Homo sapiens: one gene and its partners. The protein of the gene in region 1 interacts with the protein of each later gene in a biochemical or structural test. Each region holds a gene or a part of one and is shown in the gene's direction. Other genes may lie near its edges.

Region 1 (4,238 bases):
TATATACATTTTTAAAGGTTATGTGCATGTGCGAGACAAGTTTTTGGTCTGGCAGTGCTTGCTGCCCAGGCAGTGACACTGTTGCCCCCAGGCACTTGTCCCACAGAATCAAGGCCAGCTCTGTAGCTTGTCCTCAGAGCCCTCTGTGATGCGGCTTTGCTGGCCTTCTGCAGCCTTTTTCTGCCACCCTTTTCTTCCTTCTCACATACCCCTCTCCCCACCCCACCGCCAGTCTTGCTCATTCTTTTTAGGAGTACCTAGCAATAGGGCGCCTAGCCAGGGCACCCCACATGCCACCGTGTGCTACTCAGATGGCTGTGCTTAGGCAGTCCCCTGTGTTTTCAGCTCCCAGTGGGCTTAGCAGATCACTGCCTCCAAGTGCATGCTAGCATTCCCTGTCTCACATCACCTTGGCACACCTCTGGCATAGCTTAGCTCCTTTGTTAAAGTTCACCTTCCTATAGCTGATGCTCAGTCACGAATGAGATACTTTCTGAAGAGCAGAAACTGTCTTTTTAACCAGACTATGGTTGGTAGCACATATTAGGTGGTCTGTGTGTGTCGGAAGCAATCTGTGACCTCTTGTATCTAACTGACATCCTGAACACAGGCATAGCTGGAAAGGGCAGTTTCTTGATTGGATGAAGACCTGGGAGCACAGTATCTTTCCCTGAGCTTCATGTATTTGATACTTATTGAGTGACCATTTAGAGCAAGGCCCCTTGTAAATCAGTCAGAGTGAAGAGTGAATTGTGCTGATGGAAGAATTTATAGTGAATACCATAGGGCTCCCTGCATTCATTTTTCCTTCTTCTAAAAAGGAAAGCAAATACTGTGATTTCCTTTTGGGTAATAATCTCCCAGTGTGTATATAGTATTCGGGGTCTTGGAGTTCTGGAGTAGGCATGTGATCCCACAGAGGCCTATTAACTCTCGAAGGGAGCAACTCAGGAATGAGGCCAGGGAGGTTGTAGTCATACAGCAGTTCCAGTGGTGGTTCCCTGACCGAATTGGCCACTGGTTTCTGTTTTTGTTTTTTTTAGGGAAAGATTTTTCTCTTAAAGCAGCCACAATATTAGCCCTATTATAAATGTAAAAGTACCGGAAATAAGTACTGTAGCAGCAATAATACTGTCTTTCATCCTTAAAGCCTCACATTTTTCTATTTTTTGTTACTCTTTATTGTAAGAAGAAAAAAAGAGATTATTTGATTTGGACAAGCCAAATCCTCTTTGGTCTATGGGGTGGTTACCTCAAGGGAGAGCTGGCTTCTTAACTAAAACTTAATATTTTTTAGGAATTCCGAGAAATCTCTTACCTCAAGAAATTGAAGGTTAAAAAACAGGACCGTATATTCCCCCCAGAAACCAGCGCCTCCGTGGCGGCCACGCCTCCGCCCTCCACAGCCTCGGCTCCTGCTGCTGTGAACTCCTCTGCTTCAGCAGGTACAGCATTTGGGACCCCGGTCTTAGAGCTGCTTTGCAGGAATTGTTTGCCCACTACTTGCTGGTGGTGTGGAGCTGGTGAAGAAAGTATCCGTCAAGGGTCTCTCTTTGCTGACCCCACCATGGGGAAGCCTTGCCCTGCAGGGGATAGGCCTCTTCTCTTGGCTTGTTACACCCCTGACCACAGCAAGGTGGGAGAGTGTTAAGAACATAGCATCGGCTGGGAGCAGTGACTCACACCTGTAATCCCAGCACTTTAGGAAGCTGAGGCAAAAGAATTGCTGAGGCCAGGAGTTTGAGACCAACCTGGGCAATGTAGTGAGACCCCATCTCTACAAAAATGTTTAAAATTAATCCGAGTATGTGCCTTTAGCCCTAGATACTCAGGAGGCTGAGGCGGAGGATCCCTTGAGCCTGGGAGGTCAAGGCTGCACTGAGCTATGATCACGCTAATGCACACCAGCTTGGGCGATGGAGTGATACCCTATCTCTAAAAATAAAATAAACATTGTAGAAGAACAAGCAGCTCTTACTCTGGGAGGCTAGGAGAGGGGCTCCTAAGAAAGGCTAGGTCGACAGCCTTACCTGGAGTTGGGCGCAGGGTCTCCTGCCTGACTGCACTGCAGAGGAGCATCCCAGGCCTCACTCTCCAGGCTGCCCTGCGCCCACCAGTCATCCGGGCCCTGGTGTGATGCTCAAGTCTCTGTTGTATGCAGAGGGAGTTACTAATCAGCACTAGTGAGAAATGCCCCAAGCCAACCAAGACAGTGAGAGCAACGTATTTTTTTGGCAGGAGAAGTGACCCGCTGCTTGTTTACTCAGAGACATGTGGCATAGTCTATTGGTGAAGGTCACAGTTTGGTGGGTGGAGGATGAGGGTTCCTTCCTTGAACATAAACCTGTTATTGACTTCCTTTTCATATCCTGAGAGGGGACCAGTGGTCACTGCAGTGTGTGCTGGTGGTCATCCCGAGTCCACTGTGCTGCTGGCAGCCTGGGTCCAGGTGCCCACATGAAGGGCCAGTTGGGGGCTGGCATTCTGACCCCTCCATGGAGGGTTCCCTCCTCTGCTTTCCCCTGACTTGCAGTTCAGCATGAGTCAATAATTTTGTTCTCTGGAGACCTCAGCAGTTTCAGTTAAACTGTCAGTGTTTCCTAGTTGTTTGCCCTCACAGGGAAGGCAGGAAGGACTTTTCCTTGCAGCTACTCCAGTTCTGGACGGGTGTCACCTGCACTGTGTTGTTTGCTGTGAACAGAAGGCACACCCCTGTCCAGGCCTTTCTGGCCTGGGTCAGTGCACACCAGGCTGCTGCTTTTCTCCTAGAATCAGTTAGCTCAGCTCCGTGTGATTGTGCTGGCCACTGCTTTGAGGGACTATCATGGACATGTCTCATTTTAAAATGGGGTTAATTCATAAGAATTGCAGTTTGTTTGGGAGAATAACAGAAGGAATTGGGGGTTCATGTGACCTTACCCCTCTTCCCATCCGACTCCAGCCTCCTGGTCCCTCGTCCGCAGATGCAGCCTTCCTAGCCTGACCTTGGCGCGGACCTGGGGTAACCCGCAGCTGCCTGGCTCACGCCGCGAGGCTGGCCTGGCCATGGAGTGGCATTTTGTGGCTTGCTCCCTGCCCAGTCCTTTCTGTGCTGAGGGACATCTGTAGGTACTCAGGTGGCAGCTTGCTGTCCCGTCCTGTTTTCTCGCGAGTGTATTTTCATAGGCTTTTCCCAGGAGCTCGCTGCTTGGCTCACCTGCTCCTCCACCTCCCCTTACTGGGGAGCAGCACCAGAGCTGGCCTTGCTGAATGATTCTCTCCTTTCATCCCAGATAAGCCATTATCCAACATGAAGATCCTGACTCTCGGGAAGCTGTCCCGGAACAAGGATGAAGTGAAGGCCATGATTGAGAAACTCGGGGGGAAGTTGACGGGGACGGCCAACAAGGCTTCCCTGTGCATCAGCACCAAAAGTGAGTTGAATCTGAATTTGTGCAACAGGGACAATGCTTCTGTATCTTATGATTGTGATGACGAGTAAGTGAGGAAGAGTCGAACACAGCGCTGAAAAACTGGATCTTAACATCATCATCGCTGTGGTTCTTTATGAAGGGAAACCAGTATTTGCTCTCAGTGTTGCTGCTTTGTACTGTAGATTCACATGCATTGCGTGTTCTCAACTAAAGACGGTAAGCTACTATAGGTTGAGTCTCCCTAGTCCCGAAGCCCAAACAAATTGCCTCAAAATTCAACACTTTTTGAGTGACAACATGATGCTCAAAGGAAATGTTCATTGGAGCATTTCAGATTTCAGAGTTTTGGATTAGATGCTCAGTCAGTAAATATGAAGCAAGTATTTTAAGGTCTGAAAGGTTTCTGGTCTCAAGCATCTCGGATAAGGGAAGCTGCTCAACCTGTATTCTCATCACTTCGCACTGCTCTGTAAGATGTGCATAGATATCTGCCAAAACAGAAGTTCAAGGTTCAAGTATGTTTGGAAAAGGTAGGGTAAAACAAAGCTAAACAGGTTTCTGTGTGGGTTTATTATGCTGATTACCACTGTAGGTCTTCAGGAACCAGAGAAATAGAATACAGGATTTCCCATACATATTTGACATCAGGGTGTTTTTTCTTTGGAGTGTTTGTTAACATCGTGCTGTAGAATGGTTTGGAGAAGGCTGCCCTGGCTCATCATACCTTAGAAAAGGGGGAATGTTGCTGATAAAAACACTCTTGGGAGCATTAGACTTGGAAGCAAAGGAGAGCTGTGAATGCTGAGGGTTTGGAAGTACACACTA
Region 2 (4,238 bases), on another chromosome or scaffold:
AGGATCACTTGAGCCCAGGAGCTCGAGATCAGCCTGGACAACATGGTGAGACCCGGTCTCCTTAAAAAAAGGAAAGGCCGGGCACGGTGGCTCACGCCTGTAATCCCAGCACTTTGGGAGGCCGAGGCGGGCGGATCATGAGGTCAGGAGACCAAGACCATCCTGGCTAACACAGTGAAACCCCGTCTCTACTAAAAATACAAAAAGTTAGCCGGGCGTGGTGACGGGCGCCTGTAGTCCCACCTACTAGGGAGGCTGAGGCAGGAGAATGGCGTGAACCTGGGAGGCGGAGCTTGCAGTGAGCCGAGATCGCGCTACTGCACTTCAGCCTGGGCGACAGAGCGAGACTCCGTCTCAAAAAAAAAAAAAGGAAAGAAGTCTTGAGAAGAATATTATCTGCCACTTTATAAGATATTACTTTTGCGAAGAATATTATCAGCCGGGTGCGGTGACTCACGCCTGTAATCAGCACTTTGGGAGGCCAAGGCGGGCGGATCACAAGGTCAGGAGTTCGAGACCAGCCTGTCGAAGATGGTGAAACCCCATCTCTACTAAAAAAATACAACAAAATACAAAAAGTAGCCAGGGGTGGTGGTGGGTGCCTGTAATCCCAGCTACTCAGGAGGCTGAGGCAGGAAAATCGCTTGAACCCAGGAGGCGGAGGTTGCAATGAGTCAAGATTGTGCCATTGCACTCCAGCCTGGGCAACAAGAGTGTAACTCAGTCTCAAAAAAAAAAAAAAAAGAATATTATCTGTCACTTTTTACCAGTGGCCTAGAGCTGTGTTTGAAAATGTCAAATGTGACCAACTGAGTCATGATGAGAGTCTAAAGCATTTTAGCATACACTGTTTATTTATATATATTTTTTTGAGTTGGAATCTTGTTCTGTTGGCCAGGCTGGTGTGCAGTGATGTGATCATAGCTCACTGTAGCCTTAAACACCTTGGCTCAAGCAATCTTCCTCCCACCTTAGCCTCCTGAGTAGCTGGGACCATAGGCGCATGCCACCATGCCCAGCTAATTATTATTATTATTTGGCGACGAAGTCTCGCTCTGTCGGCCAGGCTGGAGTGCAGTGGCACAGTCTCGGCTCACTGCAACCTCTGCCTCCTGGGTTCAAGCAATTCCTGTCTCAGCCTCCCGAATAGCTAGGATTACAAGCGTACTCCACCATACCCAGCTGATTTTTTTTGTTTTGTTTTTGTATTTTTAGTAGAGATGGGGGTTTTACCATGTTGGCCAGGCTGGTATTGAACTCCTGACCTCAAGTGATCCAACCACCTCGGCCTCCCAAAGTGCTGGGATTACAGGCGTGAGCTACCATGCCCAGCCTATTATTTATTTTATAGACAGAGTGTCCCTATGTTGCCCAGGCTGGTCTTGAACTCCTAATCTCAAGCAGTTCTCCTGCCTCAGCCTTCCAAAGTGCTGAGGTTACAGGCAGAACCACATGTAAATATATGGGCATTGCTGGTTCAAATTAGATGTACATTTAAATATTTTCAAACTGGCCTTCAAAAAGTTGTATTAATTTATCACTATTTGTGTATGAAAATGTCTCTTTCCGGCTGGACATGGTGGCTCATGCCCACCCGTAATCCCAGCACTTTCGAAGGCCGAGGCGGGTGGATCACCTAAGGTCAGGAGTTCGAGACAGCCTGACCAACATGGTGAAACCCCATCTCTCCTAAAAATACAAAAAAGTTAGCCAGTCATGGTGGCATATACCTGTAGTTGCAGCTACTTGGGAGGCTAAGGCAGGAGAATCACTTGAACCCAGGAGATGGAGGTTGCAGTGAGCCCAGATAATGCCACTGTACTCCAGAGCCAGCGAGACTCTGTCTCAAAAAAAGAAAGGAAAGAAAAGAGAGAGAGAGAGAAGGAAGGAGGGAAGGAGGGAGGGAGGGAAGGAAGAGAGAGAGGGAGGGTCTGTTTTCCTGTACCCTTACCAATGCCGTATGTTATTAGGGTTTCAACTTTTGGTAATCTGATAGGTGAAAAATTACAAATGCGTTATAAGTGGAGTTGCATTTTAAAAACTATGATCGGGGGAGGGATAGCATTAGGAGATATACCTAATGCTAAATGACGAGTTAATGGGTGCAGCACATCAGTATGGCACATGTATACATATGTAACCTACACGTTGTGCACATGTACCGTAAAACTTAAAGTATAATAATAAAAAAAAACAACTATGAGATTTGATCAGATTTTTACGTATTTATTGGCTCTTGGTATTTTCTTTCTTTTTTTTTTTTTTTTTTTTTTTTGAGACAGAGTCTTGCTCTGTCACCCAGGCTGGAGTACAATGGTGCAGTCTCGCTAACTGCAACCTCCGCCTCCCGGGTTCAAGCAATTCTCCTGGCTCAGCCTTCCAAGGAGCTGGGATTACAGGCATGCGTACCATTCCCAGCTAATTTTGTATTTTTAGTAGAGACGGGATTTCTCCGTATTGGTCAGACTGGTCTTGAACTCCTGACCTCAGGTGATCCGCCCACCTCGGCCTCCCAAAGTGATGGAATTACAGGCGTGAACCACTGCGCCCAGCCACTCTTGGTATTTTCAATGATGATTCTTGAGATTTCAGTGAGTCTTCAGGTGTCAGTGAATGGAATGGCTAAACATAAAAAGGCTTCAAAACTTGTGATACTGTGAATGTAGGATGTCAGTTCAAAAGAAATGATGTTGTGACTGTAGGGTATCACTGAGATGCCAGTGATAACCTGCCCATGTCACATGTTGACCCTTTTCTCTCTTAATTTCAGGTGATCATGGAGCTCAGCTTGGTCTCCATGGGGCTGGTGGTGATGGAATACATGATGACACAGCAGGTGGAGAGGAAGGAGAAAACAGCCCAGATGCCCAACCCCAAGCCGGTCGGAGGACCCGGCGGGAAGCATGCACCTGCCCCTACTGTAAAGACAGTGAAGGAAGGTGAGTTGACCCAGCCAGTTTCTTACAAATATAAAGAAAAATTAATAGATTTGGAGATAAGAGGAAGAAGATTAATTTTTTTTTTTTTTGAGACCGAGTCTGACTCTGTTGCCCAGGCTGGAGTGCAGTGGCGCAATCTTGGCTCACTGCAAACTCCACCTCCTGGGTTCACGCCATTCTCCTGCCTCAGCCTCCCGAGTAGCTGGGACTACAGGCACCTGTCACCACACCCAGCTATCTTTTTTTATTTTTAGTAGAGACAGGGTTTCACTGTGTTACCCAGGATGGTCTCGATCTCCTGACCTCGTGATCTGCCCGCCTCGGCCTCCTAAAGTGCTGGGATTACCAGCGTGAGCCACCATGCCCGGCAAAGGTTAATTTTTTTTTTTAGGATTTAAGACTCAGAGCTGGATGCATATAATCCCAGCACTTTGGGAGGCCAAGATAGGAGGATCACTTCAGCCCAGGAGTTTGAGACCAGCCTCAGCAAGAAAGCGAGAGCCGATCTCTACAAAAATTTAAAAATTATGTGGGAATATTTTACTGGCCATAAAAAGAGAAAATGAAAAAAAAAAAAATTTTTTTTTTTTCTGAGACAAAGTCAGTCTGTGTTTCCCAGGCTGGAGTGCAGTGGCACATTCTTGGCTCACTGCAACCTCCACCTCCTGGGTTCAAGCAATTCTGCCTCAGTCTCCCGAGTAGCTGGGACTACAGGCGTGTGCCACCACGCCCGGCTAAGTTTTTCTATTTTTAATAGAGACAGGGTTTCACCTTGTTAGCCAGGATGGTCTTCATCTCCTGACTGTGTGATCTGCCCACCTCGGCCTCCCAAAGTGCTGGGATTACAGACGTGAGCCACTGCACCTGGCCAAAAAAATTTATTTATTTATTTTTTTGTTTTGAGATGGAGTCTTGCTCTGTTGCCCAGGCTGGAGTGCAGTGGCACAATCTTGGCTCACTGCAGGCTCCGCCCCCTGGGTTCACGCCATTCTCCTGCCTCAGCCTCCCTAGTAGCTGGGACTACAGGTGCCCGCCACCTCGCCCAGCTAATTTTTTGTATTTTTAGTAGAGACGGGGTTTCACCGTGTTAGCCAGGGTGGTCTCGATCTCCTGACCTTGTGATCCGCCTGCCTTGGCCTCCCAAAGTGCTGGGATTACAGGCATGAGCCATGGGGGCGCCCGGCCTTTTTTTTTTTTTAAGACAGATCTTCATCCGGGTACGGTGGCTCACGCCTGTAATCCCAGCACTTTGGGAGGCCAAGGCGGGCGGATCACCTGAGGTCAGGAGTACAAGACCAG
Region 3 (4,238 bases), on another chromosome or scaffold:
AGGTTGCAGTGAGCTGAGGTCACGCCATTGCACTCCAGCCTCGTTGACAAGAGTGAAACTCTGTCTCAAAAAAAAGAAAAAGAAAAAAAATTGTAGCTCCTGACGAGAGGTTAGAGGTTAGAAGGATAAAAACTATATTTATTCATTGTCAAACATTTTAGTGTCCAAAAGATTCAAAGCATTGCCCAGCCGTTTACTAGGTTAGAAAATGAAATTGCCTCTTTTAAATAATGTGTCTTCATTCTCCTTTTAATTCTAGGATGGCCCAGCTACTGTTCTCACTTCTGTGAAGAAGAAAGTGAAGAATGTGGGGATTTTCCTAAAGGTAGGAAGAAGATAGATAAGTAGTATAGGAAGTTTAGGATATAAAGAAGTTAAATAATATTGGCTAAAATAATTAAAATTTCATTTTTTGATTATGACTTTTTCCATAGAATGAAGATGAGGAAGAAGAGGAGGAGGAGAAAGATGAGGCAGAGGACCTTTTGGGAAGAGGTTCTCGGGCAGCATTACTTACAGAAAGAACAAGAGTAAGTTTACTATTTTAAATTACATTGATCTCGGCTGTCATATGGCTCACGTGTTGTGATAAATTGGATTTTCCATTCACCAGAATGAAATGACTGCAGAAGAGAAGCGAAGAGCACATCAGAAAGAACTAGCGGCTCAACTCAATGAAGAAGCAAAGAGGCGATTGACTGAACAAAAGGGAGAACAGCAGATTCAGAAGTAAGAGTTTTCACTGAGCAGTGAGATCATCTGAGGGTTCTGTGGGACTGCAGAAATTTCTCAGTTGTTTTTTTATCCCACTCCAGAGCTCGCAAGTCTAATGTGTCCTATAAAAACCCATCTCTGATGCCTAAGGAACCACATATTCGGGAAATGAAGATCTACATCGATAAGAAATATGAGACTGTAATAATGCCCGTGTTTGGCATTGCAACACCGTTTCACATTGCCACAATCAAGGTACTGACATTCAGTGCATCAGGTTTCATCCAAACTGTTGCTTAAAATAGTAATTGTATTTGCCATAAATAATCTGCATTCATCATGTCTCCCACTTTTGACTCCTTCAGACTCTGTTCAGTTACTGACATCCCTCTTGTCTTGTCATTCTCCTTCCTCTTTCAGTTTTTTTCACTTAGTAGAAAGCTAAACTAGTCTAGAAACATAATTTGCCTATCTTTCTTTCAACTTCGTTTAATCATTGTTTAACTTTTAGTTGTATTCATGGTACAAGGTACTTTGAGAATTCAGAGATTTTTTTGGGAAAAGGATACTTCGTTATTAAAAAGATAAATTATGTAAATTTATTAGATTTAGATTAAGGTTAAGAGCGGTCAATTTGTAACTCCTAACTTAATTTTAACATCTCTGTAACTACTAATCTCTAGGAAAGAAATCTGTTTACTTTTTATGCTTTTCCTTTGAACAGAATATAAGTATGTCCGTGGAAGGAGATTATACTTACTTGCGAATCAACTTTTATTGCCCAGGCAGTGCTCTGGGCAGGAATGAAGGCAACATCTTTCCTAACCCTGAAGCGACTTTTGTCAAGGAAATGTGAGTCCCCAAGAAAAGTCATACCCAGATTCATCTTGTCTGGAGTGGTACTCTCAGAAACATTTCATTGTCTGTGCTACATTTTCCCTACCTAGTAAATGTCAAAGCCTTCCTCATTGGTACTTGTTTCGGATCGCCTTCTTGACTTTGTACTATTTTCAGGATGGATCCCAATTTAGAATCTTCTTGAAGATACTATATATTTACTAAACATATTTTGAGCCTGGGTAATATAGTGAGACCTTGTCTCTTCTAAAAAATAATTAACCAGGGGTGGTGGTGTGCACCCGTCATCCAGCTACTGTGGAGGCTGAGGTGAGAGGATTCCTTGAGCCTGGGAGGTTGAGGCTGCAGTGAGCCCTGATCTTGCCTGTACTCCATCCAGCCTGAGCAACAGAACGAGACCTTGTCTCAAAAAAAAAATAATTATGAAAATAAGTGTTAAAAGTAATAAACATATATTGCAGTAGAATCTTCAAATAAGAAAACTGGTGCCACATTGGATTCTATGATTTCATGGTGTGAAATGGGATAATTTGGGGATGTTATACCAGATTTGAAAAATGAAAAAAGAAGGAATGGGCATGCATGGTGGCTCACGCCTGTAATCCCAGCACTTCGGGAGGCAGAGGCAGGCAGATTACATGAGGCCAGGAGTTCAAGACCAGCCTGGTCAACATGGCAAAACCCTGTATCTGCTAAAAATACAAAAACTAGCCGGGCATGGTGGTGTGTACCTGTAATCCCAGGTACTTGGAAGGCTGAGGTGGGAGGATGGCTTGAACCCAGGAGGCGAAGGTTGCAGTGAGCTAAGATTGGGCCACTGCACTCCAGCCTGGGTGACAGAGGCACACCCTGTCTCAAAAAAAAAAAAAAAAAAAAAAAGCAAAGTAGAGATTAAGCTGCTTAGAAGATAAAGTAAATCAGTACAATTTCCCTGGCCTGAAAAAGAAATGTCTATAAATGCTGTTGCTTTTCTGCAGTACATACCGAGCATCAAATATTAAGGCACCCGGAGAACAGACAGTACCAGCCTTGAACCTTCAGAATGCTTTCCGAATTATTAAAGAAGTACAGAAACGTTATAAAACTCGAGAAGCTGAAGAGAAAGAGAAGGAGGTGAGCCTGAACACAGGCAAAACATTCTTACACAAAGAAGGACATGTATTTTTTGGAGACTTGTAAGGATATGTGACAATTCACATTAATTTTCTTCTTGCTTAGGGGATTGTAAAACAAGACTCACTGGTGATCAATCTAAACCGGAGTAATCCGAAACTGAAAGATCTATACATTCGCCCAAATATTGCCCAAAAGAGGATGCAAGGCTCACTGGAGGCCCATGTCAATGGTATGGATGATCTCTCCTGTACCTAGGCTTTCTCTTCAGGGCACATTTGTTAGGAATGACAGATCAGATAATAAAATATGACAAAGAGCCATCCGCCGGTTAGCTCAGTTGGTTAAAGCATGGTGCTAATAAAGTATGACAAGGAAATGCTGGGAGGAATCTACTTACACTGCTGTGTGGCCAGAAGGAAAGGAAAGCTCTATACAGCTGTTGGTGTTTCCTCTGACCCTGTGCAAATCAGCCAGAAGAGTTGCAGTGCCTTTTGGCCTAACTTAATTATACTGCTTGACATTTCTTCATTCTTTTCCCCAGGCTTCCGCTTCACATCTGTTCGAGGAGACAAAGTGGATATTTTGTACAATAATATTAAGCATGCTTTGTTCCAGCCCTGTGATGGAGAAATGATTATTGTCTTGCACTTTCACCTCAAGGTATACCTTTCTACTTAACTAGCTGTCAGCTCTTGGGCAAGACACTTCATTTCACTCAGCTTCTTTCCTATAAAATAGTGATGAAAGGGCTGGGCGCGGTGGCTCATGCCCACAATCCCAGCACTTTGGGAGGCCGAGGTGGGTGGATCACCTGAGGTCGGGAGTTCGACACCAGCCTGACCAACATGATGAAACCCCGTCTCTACTAAAAATACAAAAATTAGCCAGGCGTAGTGGCCAGCGCCTGTAATCCCAGCTACTTGAGAGGCCGAGGCAGGAAAATTGCTTGAACCTGGGAGGCGGAAGTTGCAGTGAGCCGAGATCGCGCCATTGTACTCCAGCCTGGGCGACAGCGTGTGAAAAACAAAAAACAAAAAAGTGATGAAAAAATCACCTCTCACTTAAGAACATTTAAGAGGATTAAATAAAATAATGCCTCTAAAGGCCACAAGGCCTGGCATCTAGAAGGGGCTCATAAGCATGTTTGTTCCTTTGGTGTGTTATATGGTGGCCAGCAAATGTTTTATACGAGATCTCCAGATTTCTCTTTCTAAAATGAAGTTTTGCTTTAGATAAGATTTGTTACCAACATGATTTCCAAAGTTCCTGTAATAAGTAGGAGCACAGCACTTTTTCAAATGTACACTGTTTCCATTCCCAAGCATCATTATTTATGATGACACCAGGGGTGGTTTAATTATTTTTGCATGCATGCTGTGGAGGCCCAAGTTTGGATCACTGCCATTTCCATCACAGATACCTTTGTGTTTCTGACTTCTGTGTTCTTTCTGTTTTATGCCGACAGAATGCCATCATGTTTGGGAAGAAGCGGCACACGGATGTGCAGTTCTACACAGAAGTGGGAGAGATAACCACGGACTTGGGGAAAC
Region 4 (4,238 bases), on another chromosome or scaffold:
TGAACTGTTATGCTCTGATACGTCTCCTGGAATCCTTTGAGACCATGGCCAGCCAGACAAACCTTGTGGACCTGGACCTTGGTGGGAAGGTAATTTGGAGTTTTGGGCTCACGTTATATGGGGTCTGGGGAGATAGGGGAATAGATGGAAAAGAAGGGAATCCAATGATCCACAAATCCTTTCTGTCCTCATTGAGAATTTAGGAGAAAGAACTCAAAAGTGTCACACGTTTTCTTCCTGGACAAGTAGCGCTGTGGAACTTGTAATATTTCTTCCGTATTACCTTCTATGTTGTCTTGGTACTAGATTGTTTGGGCACTCAGACTGACAGATCTTGACCCACTTTTTTCCCTTATTTTTTCCTCAATGTATACATGATCCTTTTTAGGGTAAGAAAGCTCGGACCAAGGCAGCCCATGGCTTTGACTGGGAAGAAGAGAGGCAACCAATTCTTCAGCTTTTAACACAGCTACTTCAGTTGGACATCCGTCACCTGTGGAACCACTCAATAATTGAAGAAGAATTTGTCAGGTGGGTAGGGAGGATGGCTACAGATAATACTGAGCTGTGAGAGTGAGGCTCTGTTGATAGATATGCCGTTTTTTTGGTTTTGTTTTTTTTTTGTGGGGGGACAGAGCTTCACTCTTGTCGCCCAGGCTGGAGCGCAGTGGTTCAATCTCGGCTCACTGCAGCCTCTACCTCCTGGGTTCAAGCAATTTTCCTGCCTCAGCCTCCCGAGTAGCTGGGATTACAGGTGCCCGCCACCACAAGCTGATTTTTGTATTTTTAATAGAGACGGGTTTTGCCATGTTGGCCAGGCTGGTCTTGAACTCCTAACCTCAGGTGATCTCCCTGCTTTGGCCCCCCAAAGTGCTGGGATTACAGGTGTGAGCCACCACGCCCAGCCAGAAGTCTATTTTTAAAATAAGTAAAATAAGTTTGATGGAAGAAGGTTGTGATTTTAAATCAGCTACTCTAGGCCCGGTGCGGTGGCTCACGCCTATAATCCCAGCACTCTGGGAGGCCGAGGCGAGTGGATCACCTGAGGTCAGGAGTTCAAGACCGGCCTGGCCAACATGGTGAAACCTTGTCTCTACTAAAAAAATATGAAAATTAGCTGTGCATGGTGGTGTGTGCCTGTAATGCCAGCTACTTGGGAGGCTGAGGCAGGAGCATCACTTGAACCTGGGAGAGGGAGGTTGCAATGAGCTGAGATCGCACCATTGCACTCCATCCTGGGCGACAAGAGCAAAATCCCGTCTCAAAAAAAATAGATAGGGCCAGGCGCGGTGGCTCACGCCTGTAATCCCAGCACTTTGGGAGGCTGAGGCAGGTGGATCACGAGGTCAGGAGATCGAGACCACGGTGAAACCCCGTCTCTACTAAAAATACAAAAAAAAATTAGCCGGGCATGGTGGCGGGCGCCTCTAGTCCCAGCTACTCAGGAGGCTGAGGCAGGAGAATGGCGTGAACCCGGGAGGTGGAGCTTGCAGTGACCTGAGATCGCGCCACTGCACTCCAGCCTGGGCAACAGAGCAAGACTCCATCTCCAAAAAAAAAAAAAAAAAAAAAGATAGATAGATAGATAGACAGACAGACAAACAGACAGACAAGCTACTCTAGTAAGACTTCTTTGAGATGGTGACATTTGAGCAAAGACCCAGAGGAGGTGACTGAGAGCTATGAGAATATGTGGAGGAATAGCAAGGGCAGGGAAAAGGAATAGCATATGCAAAGACCTTGAGGAGGGAGCATGTCCAGCACGTACGAGCAATAGCAAGGAGGCCAGAGAGCTGACAGCTGAGAGCAGGTACGAGGGTTAGGCCGTGAGGCCATGGGAGCAGTGGGGAGCCAGACCGCAGGTTCTTGTGGGCCATCATGGTGACTTTGGCATTTCCTCAGAATGAAGTGGAGCCACTGGGGAGCCACAAGCAGGGAGGTGAGGTGACCTGACTTGTACTTCAACAGGGCCATCCTAGCTGTTGTATTGAAATCGACTATGGAGGGAAAGGGGAAGCAAGAGACCAGTTAAGAGGCTGTTCCAATAACTCAAGCAAGAGATGATGGTCTCTTAGACCAAGGCGTGGCAGTGGAGATGGGGAGAAGTAGTTGGATTCTATACTTTTTCCTTAAGGTAGAGCTTACAGGATTTGCTAACAGACTGGGTGTGAGGTGGGAGGGAGAGTTCAGTCAAGGATGACTCTCCCGGGTTTTGGTCTGAGCATTTGGAAGACTGGAGTTAATGGTAACTGAGATAGGGAGAAGGCTGTGAATAGGTGTTTTGGGAGGAAGATCAGATGTTCTGTTTTGGACATACAAAGTTTGAGGTGTTTATTAGCCACGTAAAGTCAGATTTGGACGTTGAATATATAGATCTGGAGTTCAGGAGAGAGGTCTGAGCTAGAGATAACACATTTGGGAATATAATAGTATTCAGAGCCGTGAGACTGAATGAAATTACCAAATCAGTAAGTGTAGCTAAAAGAGCAGGAATCCAAGGACTGGTACCCTAGGGCACTCCAGCATTAAGAGTGAGGATGCCGGGTGCATGGCTCACGCCTATAATCCTAGCACTTTGGGAGGCTGAGGCAGGAGGATCACTTGAGCCCAGGAGTTTGAGATCAGCCTGGACAACATAGTGAAACTGTGTCTCTACAAAAAATAGAAAAATTAGCTGGGCATGGTGGAGGCTGAGGTGGGAGCATCACCTGAGCTATGAGGAGGTCAAGGATGCAGTGAGCCGTGATTGCACCACTGCACTCCAGCCTGGGCAACAGAGGCAGACCCTGTCTCAAAAAAAAGAGTCTGAGGAGGAACTAGCCAAAGAAACTGAGAAAGGAGTCTTGTTCTTGTGTCCTGGAAGCGAGATAAAGCATATATTTCAAGGAGAAAGTGAGTGATTAACTGTATCACATGCAGCTGTGAAAGACCACTTGAGATGCAGATTGAATCAGTCGTTATATTTAGGAATGAGAAGTCATTGGTGACTTTGTCTTTTTTTTTTTTTTTTTTGTGATGGAGTCTCGCAATGTCGCCTGGCCTGGAGTGCAGTGGCATGATATCAGCTCACTGCAACCTCCACCTCCCAGGTTCAAGGGATTCTCCTGCCTCAGCCTCCCAAGTAGCTGGGATTACAGGCGCCCACCACCACACCCAGCTAATTTTTTGTATTTTTAGTAGAGACAGGGTTTCACTATGTTGGCCAAGCTGGTCTTGAATGCCTGACCTCGTGATCCACCTGCCTCGGCCTCCCAAAGTGCTGGGATTACAGGCATGAGCCACCACACCCGGCCAACTCTATCATATTTTTATGATATATTTAGGTTCTTTGTCAGCATCACAACTGGTTGAAAGTTGGTAATCTTGAAGGAAGGAGTACCTAACTGGGGTCAGCAAAGCAAAGCAACTTGTTATAGAAAGTAATGGCTAGAATAAAGAAAACCCTGACTTTGGGAGCAGTAGGGATAGAATGAATGAGGCAGGGCTCTGATACAATTGGATTCAGACAGCTGCTTTCATCATCTCAAACTCTTCCTTTCTCAGTTTGGTTACTGGCTGTTGCTACCGCCTTCTGGAGAATCCCACCATTAATCACCAGAAGAACCGCCCCACTCGGGAAGCCATAACACACCTGCTTGGTGTAGCCTTGACCCGTTATAACCATATGCTCAGTAAGTTACCAGTCGCTTTGCCCCGCCTTTTTTGTATTGCCCATAATTTCTCATGTTTAATGCTTCCACAGGTGCTACAGTGAAGATCATCCAGATGCTGCAGCACTTTGAACACCTGGCACCTGTACTGGTTGCAGCCGTGAGTCTATGGGCAACTGACTATGGAATGAAGAGCATAGTGGGAGAGATTGTAAGGTGACTCTTCCTTCTCGAAGTTTCTCATGCTTATTTTCCTTGGGGAGGGAATAAAGAAAGATTGGAAATACATTATCTGTGCAACAGTAGATTCCTTCAGATATTAGATACCTGTCTTACCTTCCCTTACTGGGAACTGAATAATTGATCTATGTTGCTATGGCTGTGTTTTCTTCCCTGTGTAGAGAGATTGGACAAAAGTGTCCCCAAGAGCTGAGTCGAGACCCTTCAGGGACAAAGGGCTTTGCAGCATTCCTGACAGAACTAGCAGAACGTGTCCCAGCTATCCTGATGTCCAGCATGTGCATTTTGCTAGATCACCTGGATGGAGAAGTAGGTGGTCCACTAGGGGTCACTGAGCTTTTTCTGGGG
Region 5 (4,238 bases), on another chromosome or scaffold:
CTATCTCCTTGTTTATATCTTTTTTTTTTTTTTTTGGCCTCCTACTCTTTCGTACAGCTATATGTCTTTGGCTTTCAAGATCTTCTTTCCACAAACCCTCCGTGCACTCAGCCGAAAAGAACTGTGCCTATTCCGAAAACATCACTGGCGTGATGTAAGACAATTCAGCCAGTGGTCAGAAACAGATCTGCTTCATGGACATCCCCTCTTCCTGAGAAGAAAGCCTGTTCTATCATTCCAGGGAAGCCATCTAAGATCACGTGCCACCTACCTTGTTTTCTTGCCAGGGTTGCATGTGGGACTCTGCAGTGGCCCCTGTGAGATGGCTGAGCAACGGTTCTGTGTGGACTATGCCAAGCGTGGCACAGCTGGCTGCAAAAAATGCAAGGAAAAGATTGTGAAGGGCGTATGCCGAATTGGCAAAGTGGTGCCCAATCCCTTCTCAGAGTCTGGGGGTGATATGAAAGAGTGGTACCACATTAAATGCATGTTTGAGAAACTAGAGCGGGCCCGGGCCACCACAAAAAAAATCGAGGACCTCACAGAGCTGGAAGGCTGGGAAGAGCTGGAAGATAATGAGAAGGAACAGATAACCCAGCACATTGCAGGTAAGGTAGAGAACACTGCTTTCTCATCTTACTGGTGCTGAGAGAAAAAGGGATAAGGAGTTCAACTGCTTTCTTTCTCTTTTTTTTAACTTTGCTCTTTTAGAGATGGGGTCTCACTCTGTTGCCTAGGCCAGTGTTTAATGTTGCATTCGTAGCTCACTGCAGCTTTGCACTGCTGGACTCAGGTCATCCTGACTCAGCCTCCCAAGTAGTTGGGATTACAGGCGCATGCCACCATGCCCAGCCTTTAACGTTTTATTTGGAAATAATTTTAAACTCACTGAAGTGTTGGAAGATTAAAAATAGTACAAAGAACATTCATATTCCTTTTACCCATATTTACCTATTAACATTTTACTCTATTTGCTTTATCATATTTGTTCATGTGCTGTCTCTCTCTACATACATACACACGTGTGCGTGCACTCACTTTAAACCATTTGAGAATAAGTTGCATACATCATGGCCCTTTAAAATTCTTCAGTGTATATACCTTAAGAATAGGATATATGACCCTTATGCGACTATAATATAGCTATCATCTTCAGAAAATTTGTCCTTGATGTAATACTTAAATCTACCATCTGTATACTATTTTGTCAATGGATTGAGTCATACCTTCAGTAGCCTTTTCCTGCAGTATAGGATCCCAGTCTAGGATCATATCAGGTGTTGCATTTAGTTGTCATGTTTCTTTGGCCTCCTTTAATCTGAAATATTTCCATAGTCTCTCTTTTATGACATTGATATTTTGGAAGAATAGAGTACTGATTACTATCCTCTTTTACTTTTTTTCTTGTAGCATATAATTCATTACTGTACTTAACTAATTTGATACTTAATTGTCCCATATTTGGCCAATTAGGAACCCCTTTACACTGTCCTCTGTGTCCTGTATACCTTCATTAACTTTTTTTAATGTACTTCTTTACTCTTGAGCATAGCAAGATGCTTTTAGTCTTATCCCGTATGTATCCTTCCCCAGCCCTGAAATTGGTAATTTCTCTGGGGATTCCTGTTAGTGGGAAATGCCCCTGTTAAAGAGTAAAACCTGGATACTATGTGTCCACATTGTCATGGGGTATCTGTTTCTTCTTTTTTTTTTTTTTGAGAGTCTCACTCTGACCCAGGCTGGAGTGTAGTGGCACTATCCTGTTAGTGGGAAATGGTATTAAAGAGTAAAACCCGGATACTATGTGAACACATTGTCATGGGGTATCTGTTTCTTCTTTTTTTTTTTTTTGAGACAGAGTCTCACTCTGTGACCCAGGCTGGAGTGCAGTGGCACTGTCTTAGCTCACTGCAACCTCTGCCTTCCAGGTTCAAGCAATTGTCCTGTCTCAGCCTCCCAAGTAGCTGGGACTACAGGCACTTGACACCACACCCAGCTAATTTTTGTGTTTTTAGTAGAGACAGGGTTTCACCATGTTGGTCCAGCTGGTGTTGAACCCCTGACTTCAAGTGATCCACCCACCTTGGCCTCCCAAAGTGCTGGGATTACAGGCCTGAGCGCCCAGCCATGGCATGTCTGTTTCTAAGCCCTTTCAGCAGACAGAGCTAGAAAATATGTGCGTGTATATGCATGTAAAATTCATACCTATATATGGCTATATATAACATGTTTGCATGTACATGCATATTTACATATGCATATTTTAGAAATTTTATGCCAATACCCCCAAATCCAGTTAGTCCTCTTTGACCTTCAGTGTCTGTAAAATAATGTTCATATCTTCAACTTAGTTCTGGTCACCATAGGAAGACAGTTAACAATGGCTCTAAAAATGGGTATCTGTCCTTGTTCTTTGAAAGGAAAAAAGACTTCCGGGAAAGAAAACTGTGCTTCCCATATACTTTATTCTCAGGCTCCCCATCCCACCTTGCACTGCCTTAGCTATTGGCCTCGGCCTTTGTTACTTCTTGACCCATCTCTCATTTGGAGGAAGAGAAATACAGGTAGAGTTCATGACTCAGATAACTAAGCATCTGGAAATTTTCCTTCCTATGCTAGGTTGACATGCTCTGTGATCCTCATTTACTTTTTGTTCATCTCTAAATTGAAGCTAATTCTGTGGGGTTGGGGGTTCCCTAAGTTTTATCCATCAAACTATGATTTCTGATTTCCCCCAAATTGTTATTTCTGGAGACTTACATATGGGATAAGAAGTGGAGAATGTTGATGAAAATTTAAGGTACTAATAGAGATAAATGGTAACTGGATCTTTTGTCTCCAGCATATCCTTCCCTTCTGTCCCCACAATACCCTATTACCTACTACCCCCACTCAAAAAATACCAGCCACCAGCCAGCCTTGGGCTAGTGCTAGGGTAGTGACTTAACAAGCAAGGCCCTAGGAGCAGTTGATAGATTCTTTGGATGTTTTTTTCAGAGATCGTTCACTGAAGGATATTTTATACTCTTTTGGGATCCTACAGATCTGTCTTCTAAGGCAGCAGGTACACCAAAGAAGAAAGCTGTTGTCCAGGCTAAGTTGACAACCACTGGCCAGGTGACTTCTCCAGTGAAAGGCGCCTCATTTGTCACCAGTACCAATCCCCGGAAATTTTCTGGCTTTTCAGGTAAGATAGGTTAGGGCTACTTTAGCTGTTATAGTGCTGCTTTTATTTTGTATTCTACCTAGGATTCTGGCTAAAGAGTGAAAATTCTGTGCTATCTCATCTCATTAATAATTTGCTTCTGTCTGAGCAGAGACTGGTAATGGCTAATTCTAAGCCTTCCGCTTGGTTTTTGTTTGTTTGTTTGTTTTTTGGTTTTGGGGGTTTTTTTGAGATGAAATCTTGCTCTGTCATCCAAGCTGGAGTGCAGTGGTGCATTCTCAGCTCACTGCAACCTCCGCCTCCTGGGTTCAAGCGATTCTCCCACCTCAGCCTCCCAAGTAGCTGGGATTACAGGCACCTGCCACCATGCCTGACTAATTTTTGTATTTTTAGTAGAGATGGGGTTTCGCCACGTTGGCCAGGCTGGTCTCAAACTCCTGACCTCAGGTGATCCACCTGCCCCAGCTTCCCAAAGTGCTGGGATTGCAGGCGTGAGCCACTGCGCTCGGCCAGCATTCCACTTGTATAGCATTTCTTTGTATACTTTAACCTCTATCGCAGCGGAAAGATTTGTTTTGTCAAGACTTTTTCCCCTTGAAATAGTTACCTGGGCCAGACAGAGATTATTAGAACCTGTCTTTTACTTCCTTGTGTTTTGATAATGAAAGAATTTTGAGAAATTGTTTCCCTGAATATGCCTAGAAATGAAAGTATGAAAGAAGGGAGATGTCATGCATGGATCTCCCTTCTTGATTCTTAAAACTGTTTATTCAAAACACTGGAACTTCATGGAACACAAAGGAAGGAAAAAAAGATCTGAAGGATATTGCTATTTGTTGGGAGGCAGTACAGCCTAGGGATGAAGCTTGCAGACTTTGGAATCAGTGAGCTCTGGGTTCAAATCCCATCTCCTAAAGGGGAGGACTGTGGCTATTATTTGTAGGACAGATGAACAATAAAGTGTTAAGTTTCCTGTTCTCTTCACTAAAATACACACATGCACACACGTGTATACACACATATATAGTTTCTTTTATATAAAATATAGAATTACTATTTCATAGACAGGGAT
Region 6 (4,238 bases), on another chromosome or scaffold:
TTATCAATGTTAGCTGGGGCAAATTAAGCTCCAAGCAAAGGAAAATGAACTAGTGGAGGAGGCTGACTGGAATACCCTGTTCTGGGGTCTTGTGCCTCCCTTGAGACTCTCTGCATCCTGCCACCTGCTCCCAGCTGCCGGTCAGCACATACTGATTGTGCACTGGCCCTAGACTAGGCTTGGAGCAGTGGGTAGGGAGGCAGGAATGGGACCGAATGCTTGCTGACCATCCTCAAAGTGTTGAGTTGAGAAAACAAGATGAACTGTGTGCATAGTGAAACTTGGGAATGAGATGGAATATAGCATGACTTCTCAGGGCTAGTGTGGCGTGTGCATCAGCTGCAGTGGCATCTCCTGGGCTCTGGTTAGAAATGCAGCACATCAGACCCTACCAGACCTCCTGAATCAGAACCTGCATTTTAACAAGACCCCAGGGGAGGCATAGGTATGCTGGAGTCTGAGAGGCACTGGTTTAAGTGGGACAGTGAGCAGTTTAGTCATGGGCTGCAGTATTTGGAGAAGGCTGCATCGGCAAGGGAGCAACTGAGCTCCCTTGAGTCCTGGGAGGGCAATACCCAGGGTGGATGAAAGAGGAGAGTATTTGAAGCTGGGAGAGTGTGGAGCCAGGAGAGGACCAGTCTTCTTGCTAGTGATGAATTTTGGCAGAGCAATGGGATCCATCTTCTAAAGGATCTGATTTGGTAACATTCACATCACATGTTCAAAAGTTACCAAATCAGATACTAAAATTGAACACATCATTTTTATCACCCAGATGTAGATTCTATGTTCTTCCTTAGCAGCAGCGAAGGTGGTAGAAAGCACTGGGCAGGGAGTCCAGACCCAGGTCTGGTTGTGGTTTTGCTGATAACAAAGCTGTGGGTACTGACCAAGCCGCTTTACAAAATGATAATTTTATGCGTTTATGATTTCGTGGGTCAAGACAAAAGCCATAGGCATGGCTCTGCTAGGCAGTTCTACTCTGGGTAGTGTTAGTGGGGGCGACTCATTCAGCTGGTGGCAGCCCTGAGTTGGGATGGAGAGTCCAATCAGGCTTTATTCATATCTGGCTCCTCCGTGCTCCCCCATGTGGCCTTTGGCTGTCCACATGGCTAGCTTGGGCTTCCTCACAGCATGGTAGCCTCAGACTTCTTATGTGGCAGCTGGCTTATAAGAGGGAAGAAATGGAAGCTACAAGGTCTCTTAAAACCTGGAACTGACACATCTTCATTGCATTCTGTTGATCCAACTGGTCATAAGCCCTGCCCAGATTCAAGGGGAGGGAAAACAGTCTCCATCTCTTGATAAATGGAGCAGGATGCAGGCACAAGGAGGACAGAATTGAGTGTGGCTCTCTTTGGGTACTGTCTGTAATATAACATACCAGGCTCCATGATGTCATGAGGACCCAGACTCCTTTCTGCTCCTCCCACCTCATGGTCCAAGGTGACTGTTGGTGCTCTAGTCAGCAGGAAGGAGTGGAGGAGGAAGAAGGCACCGTTTGCTCCCCTTCAAGGAGATTTCTATTTCATTGGCCAGGTAGTCCATGGCCATGCTGTCTTAGTCCATTTTGCGTTGCCATAAAGAATACCTGAGACTGGCTAATTTATAGAGAAGAGGTTTATGGCTCATGGTTCTGCAGGCTATACAAGAAGCATAGGGCTGGTGTCTTCTTCTGGTGAGGCCCTCAGGAAGCTTCCACTCATAGAAGGCGGAAGGGGAACAAGCGTGTCATATGGTGAGGGAGGAAGCAAGAGAGAGGGGAGGAAGTGCCGGGCTCTTTTTTTTTTTTTTTTTTTGAGACGGAGTTTTGCTCTTGTTGCCCAGGCTGGATGCAATAGCCCGATCTTGGCTCACCGCAACCTTTGCCTCCTGGGTTCAAGTGATTCTCCTGCCTCTGCTTCCCGAGTAGCTGGGATTACAGGCATGCACCACCACGCCTGGCTAATTTTGTATTTTTAGTAGAGATGGGATTTCTCCACGTTGGTCAGGCTGATCTCAAATTCCCGACCTCAGGTGATCCACCCACCTCAGCCTCCCAAAGTGCTGGGATTACAGGCATGAGACGCCGCGCCTGGCCACCAGGCTCTTTTAAACAGCCAGCTCTCCCATGAACTGATGAGAGTAAGAACTCGCTCTTTACTACGGGGACGGCACCAGGCCATTCATGAGGGATCTGCCCCTGTAACCTCCCACGAGGCCCCACCTCCAACACTGGGGATCACATTTCAACAAGACATTTGGAGGGGCCTAACATTCATACCCCATCACATGCCTGTAGGATGCTGTAAGACAGTATGCCCAGCTAGAAGTCAGAGGTTTGTTCTAAGGAAGAAGGGGAGAATAAAAAGTGGGAGCAACTGGCTGGGTGCGGTGGCTCATGCCTGTAATCCCAGCACTTTGGGAGGCTGAGGCGGATGGATCACTTGAGGTCAGGAGTTTGAGACCAGCCTGGCCAACATGGTGAAACCCTGTCTCTACTGAAAATACAAAAATTAGCCAGGCGTGGTTGTATGTGCCCCTGTAGTCCCAGCTACTTGGGAAGCTGAGGCAGGAGAATTACCTGAACCCAAGAGGTGGAGGTTACGGTGAGCTGAGATCGAGCCACTGCACTCCAGCCTGGGCAAAAAAAGTAAGACTCCATCTCAAAAAGAAAAAAAAAAAAAAAAAAGGGTGGGAGGAACTGCCAGTTGTTACTTCACCTTTCCCAAAGCCAAAACCTGCTTGAAAATTTTAGGGGCAGAAGCCGCAGACAGGGCAGCCTCAAGACACAGGGAGGTGGGTCTCTTGAGTGAGCCTACTGGATGTGCCTGCCTGCCCGGGGACCCTCATGGCCTCTCTCTGCCCCCAGTTCACCACAGGCACGTGCAGCGACTCGGTGGTTCACAGCTGTGACCTGTGTGGCAAGGGCTTCCGTCTGCAGCGCATGCTGAACCGTCACCTCAAGTGCCACAACCAGGTGAAAAGACACCTGTGCACCTTCTGCGGCAAGGGCTTCAACGACACCTTCGACCTGAAGAGGCACGTCCGCACACACACAGGTGAGCGGGGAGTGCGTGCTTTGTTCTCTGTTTTGTTATTCTGGCCAAGAGCTCCTGTTTCTTTCCCACCAAAAAACCAGGTTGAGACCGTGGAACAATGTTGTGTTTCTAGAAAGATCACAAGATGCGGATCACGAGGTTAGGAGTTTGAGACCAGCCTGGCCAACATAGTGAAACCCTGTCTCTACTAAAAATACAAAAAAATTAGCTGGGCGTGGTGGTGGCGCCTGTAATCCCAGCTACTTGGGAGGCTGAGGCAGGAGAATCGCTTGAACCTGGGAGGCGGAGGTTGCAGTGAGCCAAGATCATGCCACTGCACTCCAGCCTGGGTGACATTGCAAGACTCCATCTCAAAAAAAGAAAAAAAAAGAAAGATCACAAGATGATGGGGCGTTAGGGCCAGCCCTTCTGGGTTCACCTCCTGACTCTGCCACCTGCCAGCTGTGTCACCTTGGGCCAGGTGAGCCACCTTTGGTAGCCTGCCTTTCACCCCTGTAAAATGGAGATATCGATGTGAGTTCTAGCGAGGCTCAAAACGGATCCCTGGCTGGAAGTATTCTGAGAATCATGATGCATGGCACACACGCGGGGCCTGCCACAGCTCAGCCCCTTGGTTCTGGCTGCTGGAATGTGGTTCTTGTGGCCCCACAATGAGTATTTTATACTTCTCTCTTGGGACATAAGCCTGTCTCTGGATAGCATCGTGTTCCTCCTGAGACACAAAAAGGAGCTCATTGCCTTTAGAGCTGACCCGAGCCTCGTACTGGAGCCTGGCAGGCAAGCATCTTCCTCTTCTGGGACCTGCCTCAGTTTTCTGACTTAGGAAGTGGGAATCCAGGTTCTCCCCAGTTCCAGTTCTTCACAGAGTCCTGGGGGTGCCCTTGGCCTCTTGTCTCGGCCTCACTGCTTCTATCTGAGAAACACCTGGCCTCCATGCTTTCCCGCCTGAGCTCCATTGTCCACACCTCTGCCAGAGTGATCCCTCCAGGAGAATTCTAAGGACTCTACTTCCCTGCTAAGAAATCTCCAACTCTGAACAGAATGAAATCCAGACTCCTCATCTCTCATCTTGATGGGCTTCGTGTAAAGGCCTTTACAATGTGGGTCCCATCTTCAAATCCCCATCCTATCTCAGCCCATCCCAGCCCATCACGTCCTATCCCATCACATCCTATCACAGCCCACCTCAGATCAGCC
Region 7 (4,238 bases), on another chromosome or scaffold:
CCGTCTCAAAAAAAAAAAAAAAAAAAAAATTGCCTGCTCTGGTGCTCTGGTGAGGATGCTAGCACAGTTGTTTCTCAGCTTGCCTTCTTACAGCCCATTTGTAATGTTTTATGATTGGTTCATTACCTATGTAATTTTTGTTATTCATATGCAATTTTTTCATGCAGATATGGAATGTGCAGATGTCCCACTATTAACTCCAAGCAGCAAAGAAATGATGTCTCAAGCATTAAAAGCTACTTTCAGTGGTTTCACTAAAGAACAGCAACGACTGGGGATCCCAAAAGGTATGGTTTTGTAGTTGGAAAAAGAGTGGTTGGGGTCAGACCCTTTGGGAAGACACATTTTCTCACCTGGAGTGTGTGAGGCAGACGTTACACTAACCACATTGGAGTCAGCAGCTATGGGCCATGGCTGCCATCTGTTAGGACAATCATGACACACATACTGAGGCTGCCCCGTCTCCTGGGCTTGTTCTTGCCATCTTGGTATGAAGACAGTGGTCCTCAAACTTGCCTGCACACTAGAATCACTTCTGGATCTCTTGGAACAGCTCTGATGTTGGGCATTACACCTGCTGTCATCTGAACTTCTAAGTGTCATTGGTGGGTGTAGCCAGGTTAAACCTCAGGTCATGTATGAAGATTGCATGTTATCAATACTACAGTGCTACTCAAGCTATAGCTTATGATAAGTACAGACTTTGCAGAGTATCTGGTATAATACAGGCACCTAATAATGTTATTACCAAGTGCCATTTGAATGAATGACTACTACTAATTGCTACAATTGTTACCACTATAATTGGCTAAGATAAAAAATAATCGAGAATAATAGTCTCAAGTATATTATAGTTAAGAGCAGGGAGAGGCATGAGCAATCTCTTGTTATTATTGCTATTAAAGAAGCCATTTGTTCTGTTCAGGGCTTTAAAAAAGTCCAATGGGAATAAGGCAGTGAGAGAGGAGATTCATGGAAATCTTTGCCTGCAAGGACAGAGAATACTCATGTGGTACTTTTTGGCTGGCAGTAGTGACCTCCTAGCTGGTGAAATAGAGAAGGCGGAGATGTTGAATATGGAGGGGAGGGTTATGGAAGGCACTCAATGATGTGCAGGCTAGGCTGATGCTTCCTCATTCGATGAATAAAGATAGCATTCTCAGCTAAATTCAGCTCCTTCAGTGTCCTCTCTGAGGCTTGGATAGGAGTTAAAAGCCCGACCTGCTGGATCTTCATCTGATCTCTTTCCTCAGACCCCCGGCAGTGGACAGAAACCCATGTTCGGGACTGGGTGATGTGGGCTGTGAATGAATTCAGCCTGAAAGGTGTAGACTTCCAGAAGTTCTGTATGAATGGAGCAGCCCTCTGCGCCCTGGGTAAAGACTGCTTTCTCGAGCTGGCCCCAGACTTTGTTGGGGACATCTTATGGGAACATCTAGAGATCCTGCAGAAAGGTAAATATGTGGAAACAGAGAGAGGTGGAGGTTATGTGGGGTTGCTGTGAGAGTAGGTAGGGGGCTCACCCAATGGTGGGACGTCAATGCCTTTATCTGTGGGTGTCCTACTGTAGGACGTATGTGGGAATGTGCCTAGTACACTGCTCAGCATACAGCAGGTACTCTTAGATGAGTGTAATTTCTTTTTCTTCTACATATTGGGGGTTCAGATATTAATCTTCAGCAAGATTGTACCACTGAAGCTTCTTGGATTGCAACATTCTAATCCAGGTCCTTATCTCAAACCCATGCCCTGGTTGAACAAGCAGTGCCCACAGCCAACCCAAGAATAGTTTTTGTTTTTGTTTTTGTTTTTGTTTTCTGCAATCTTAATACACACTGCCTTGATGCATGCCCCATAATACCTCATCACATCCCGGGAAAGCTTAGCGTCTGAGACCGTATTAATAAGACAGATTTCTCTGCCCACTAACTGAATTGGAATTGCAGTAGTGCATCATACCTTTTACATCTGGAGCAGGAACTGGGGTTATATCAGGACGCTATGTTGCAACCTTATAATGACATGGCCTCCCCTAACAGCCTCTTCCAACCTTTTTGGACCAAGTGACTCATGTACCACAGTCCTGGCTGAGTATAGAAACAGCAGCAGGCGGCAAACTTGGGTGTTTTTGTGCTTATTTTTTTGAATTTTTTCTTAAAATAAATTGCAGTTACCAGCAGTCAGCAGTGCCCTTCAGCTGACTGTAAGCCTAGAAGCCCATTGCCCTCTCTAACCCAGGCCCATCCTTTCCCTGTGGTCATCAGCTCTAACCCTTGGCACAGACGCTGGGGGAGGGGAGCAAAACTCAGGATTAGCACTTTTACCCCGCATTATACCTTCCTTTGGTTAAGAATATATTCCATTCTGCAGTGCTCAAGAGAGACCCAAACTAGATTTCTCTGTGCTCAAAAATGTTATCTTTATTCCTTCTTTTCACTTTCTGTTGAAAAATAAGACATAAAGGAATACAGGAAAGAACTAGGTGAGTCTTTCTGTGGCTGCTTTTACCGAGGATGGCAGGCAGTTGCAAAGCACCGGCATGTTCTCCATGCACAGACACCCACTCATAGGTGTTGACATGAGCGACCTGTTTATAGAGGGAAACGATACGGCAGGCTCCTAACAGATCTGATTTGACTGTTGACTTCTAAACACAATAGCAGATTCAATCAGACTGTGTAACCCAGTATATTCTACTAAGAGGCTGTTTTCCTCCATTTATCAAAATGGAGCTGCTAGGTGTTTTGGGCTATCTAAGCCCATCTCTGATTGTAGTTACAATTAATATCTCTATCATGTCTCCCTGTTTCCAAAGTGCTTTCAAATACATTTTCTCTTTGGATTATCAAAATAACTGTGAGATAGTAAGGACAAGTCCTATTATTGTCCTTGTCTGTAAAATGAAGCTCAGGGTAGGCGATTTCTTCAGTATCACTCATCTCCTTTTCTTCATTTTATTTCAACTTTCAGTATATTTTTATTTTATTTTATTTTATTTATTTTTTGAGACAGAGTCTTGCTCTGTCACCCAGGCTGGAGTGCAGTCGCGCGATGTCGGCTCACTGCAACCTTCGCCTCCTAGGTTCAAGCGATTCTCCTGCCTCACCCTCCTGAGTAGCTGGGACTACAGGCGCATGCCACCATGCCTAGCTAATTTTTGTATTTTTAGTAGAGTCAGGGCTTCACCGTGTTGGCCAGGATGGTCTTGATCCCTTGACCTCGTGATCTGCCCACCTTGGCCTCCCAAAACACTGGGATTACAGGCGTGAGCCACCGCGCCTGCCCTCAATATATTTTTATTTAACTTAAAATTTAACATCCCATCCTGTGCTTTTTGTATAATAATGTGGATTCACAGGGGCCTTCTGGCCGCTAAGACTGGTTTGGCCTCACTTAGGGTAAAGGAATAATGTAAGAAAATTTAAGAGAATTAGGATATAAGTCAGTATGTTTGAGAGCAAAAGTCATATCTTCCCACCCAATATTCTGTTGAGAGAGGCAGAAAGAATTCTCCCTCTTCAGGTTCAGTTACTTGAAGAGATGAGCATGATGTTTGTGCTGAGGCTACAGCTTTTGTTCTGTAATTAAAGCAACACAGCAGCAAAAGAACATAGCTGTTTGGGGTGGGGTGGAAGGTGAAAGGTACGGGGATGTTTCAATCTGATAAACTGCTAAAGCAAAGTTTAATCATTTTATCTCAACTGGGAACTGTTTTTCTGTGCAGGCATAAACTTGTTTTCCCATCAGACTTTGCTCCTAACAAGCTATCAAATACCTGAGGAAAAACCCAAACCCATACTCTATGTCAGATTCTTATGGTGAAATATAATCAGACTACTCCATACAAGAATCGGAGCCATGGCATTTGTTCCAGGGTAATTAGAGGATCCCAGGCTTACTGCAGGGTCGTTCAGAGCTTTCTGTCCGCAGGTGCACTTCGTCTCCCTTCCTCTCCTTTTCCTAGGGGAGTTGGCATCTGGGCAGGAGCTTGACTGGGTTGCTCTTCTCTCCCTTGACACAAGCGCAGTCGCATTTCACCAAATGGAGTCACCTTACCAGTGTCCTGCTTCTTGTCTGGGCCTGAACTTGAAACCTGAGGGCAATGGGAAAAATACAAAACAAAAACCAGACATCTGTTAGAGGAAATGGAGAACGTAAAATCTATGGCCTAAAGACTGCAATATATTTTTGAGAAATTTTGAAATTGATTAGTTTGGGGGTTGGGGATTGATCCTGCT

The links.
Region 2: of the proteins of PARP1 (region 1) and SP1, one has a biochemical effect on the other in vitro, tested with the Homo sapiens proteins (one study listed by BioGRID).
Region 3: of the proteins of PARP1 (region 1) and SUPT16H, one has a biochemical effect on the other in vitro, tested with the Homo sapiens proteins (one study listed by BioGRID).
Region 4: the proteins of PARP1 (region 1) and NCAPD2 interact in far-western blotting, tested with the Homo sapiens proteins (one study listed by BioGRID).
Region 5: the proteins of PARP1 (region 1) and LIG3 form a complex in vitro, tested with the Homo sapiens proteins (one study listed by BioGRID).
Region 6: the proteins of PARP1 (region 1) and OVOL2 form a complex in vitro, tested with the Homo sapiens proteins (one study listed by BioGRID).
Region 7: the proteins of PARP1 (region 1) and ETS1 form a complex in vitro, tested with the Homo sapiens proteins (one study listed by BioGRID).

Annotation. Positions count from the first base shown.
Region 1 is NC_000001.11:226,380,243-226,384,480, reverse strand, and holds part of PARP1 (poly [ADP-ribose] polymerase 1), read left to right. Parts: intron 1-1,297; coding exon 1,298-1,445; intron 1,446-3,272; coding exon 3,273-3,413; intron 3,414-4,238. UniProt on the Homo sapiens protein: Poly-ADP-ribosyltransferase that mediates poly-ADP-ribosylation of proteins and plays a key role in DNA repair.
Region 2 is NC_000012.12:53,403,815-53,408,052, forward strand, and holds part of SP1 (transcription factor Sp1), read left to right. Parts: intron 1-2,770; coding exon 2,771-2,939; intron 2,940-4,238. UniProt on the Homo sapiens protein: Transcription factor that can activate or repress transcription in response to physiological and pathological stimuli.
Region 3 is NC_000014.9:21,359,525-21,363,762, reverse strand, and holds part of SUPT16H (FACT complex subunit SPT16), read left to right. Parts: intron 1-259; coding exon 260-325; intron 326-434; coding exon 435-530; intron 531-613; coding exon 614-729; intron 730-815; coding exon 816-969; intron 970-1,438; coding exon 1,439-1,566; intron 1,567-2,549; coding exon 2,550-2,685; intron 2,686-2,790; coding exon 2,791-2,917; intron 2,918-3,229; coding exon 3,230-3,348; intron 3,349-4,153; coding exon 4,154-4,238. UniProt on the Homo sapiens protein: Component of the FACT complex, a general chromatin factor that acts to reorganize nucleosomes. The FACT complex is involved in multiple processes that require DNA as a template such as mRNA elongation, DNA replication and DNA repair.
Region 4 is NC_000012.12:6,510,722-6,514,959, forward strand, and holds part of NCAPD2 (condensin complex subunit 1), read left to right. Parts: coding exon 1-89; intron 90-388; coding exon 389-531; intron 532-3,543; coding exon 3,544-3,671; intron 3,672-3,742; coding exon 3,743-3,866; intron 3,867-4,051; coding exon 4,052-4,199; intron 4,200-4,238. UniProt on the Homo sapiens protein: Regulatory subunit of the condensin complex, a complex required for conversion of interphase chromatin into mitotic-like condense chromosomes.
Region 5 is NC_000017.11:34,982,945-34,987,182, forward strand, and holds part of LIG3 (DNA ligase 3 isoform alpha precursor), read left to right. Parts: intron 1-57; coding exon of another isoform or gene 58-61; coding exon 62-608; intron 609-3,043; coding exon 3,044-3,187; intron 3,188-4,238. UniProt on the Homo sapiens protein: Isoform 3 functions as a heterodimer with DNA-repair protein XRCC1 in the nucleus and can correct defective DNA strand-break repair and sister chromatid exchange following treatment with ionizing radiation and alkylating agents.
Region 6 is NC_000020.11:18,040,337-18,044,574, reverse strand, and holds part of OVOL2 (transcription factor Ovo-like 2), read left to right. Parts: intron 1-2,851; coding exon 2,852-3,041; intron 3,042-4,238. UniProt on the Homo sapiens protein: Zinc-finger transcription repressor factor. Plays a critical role in maintaining the identity of epithelial lineages by suppressing epithelial-to mesenchymal transition (EMT) mainly through the repression of ZEB1, an EMT inducer.
Region 7 is NC_000011.10:128,486,506-128,490,743, reverse strand, and holds part of ETS1 (protein C-ets-1), read left to right. Parts: intron 1-167; coding exon 168-287; intron 288-1,253; coding exon 1,254-1,454; intron 1,455-4,238. UniProt on the Homo sapiens protein: Transcription factor. Directly controls the expression of cytokine and chemokine genes in a wide variety of different cellular contexts. May control the differentiation, survival and proliferation of lymphoid cells.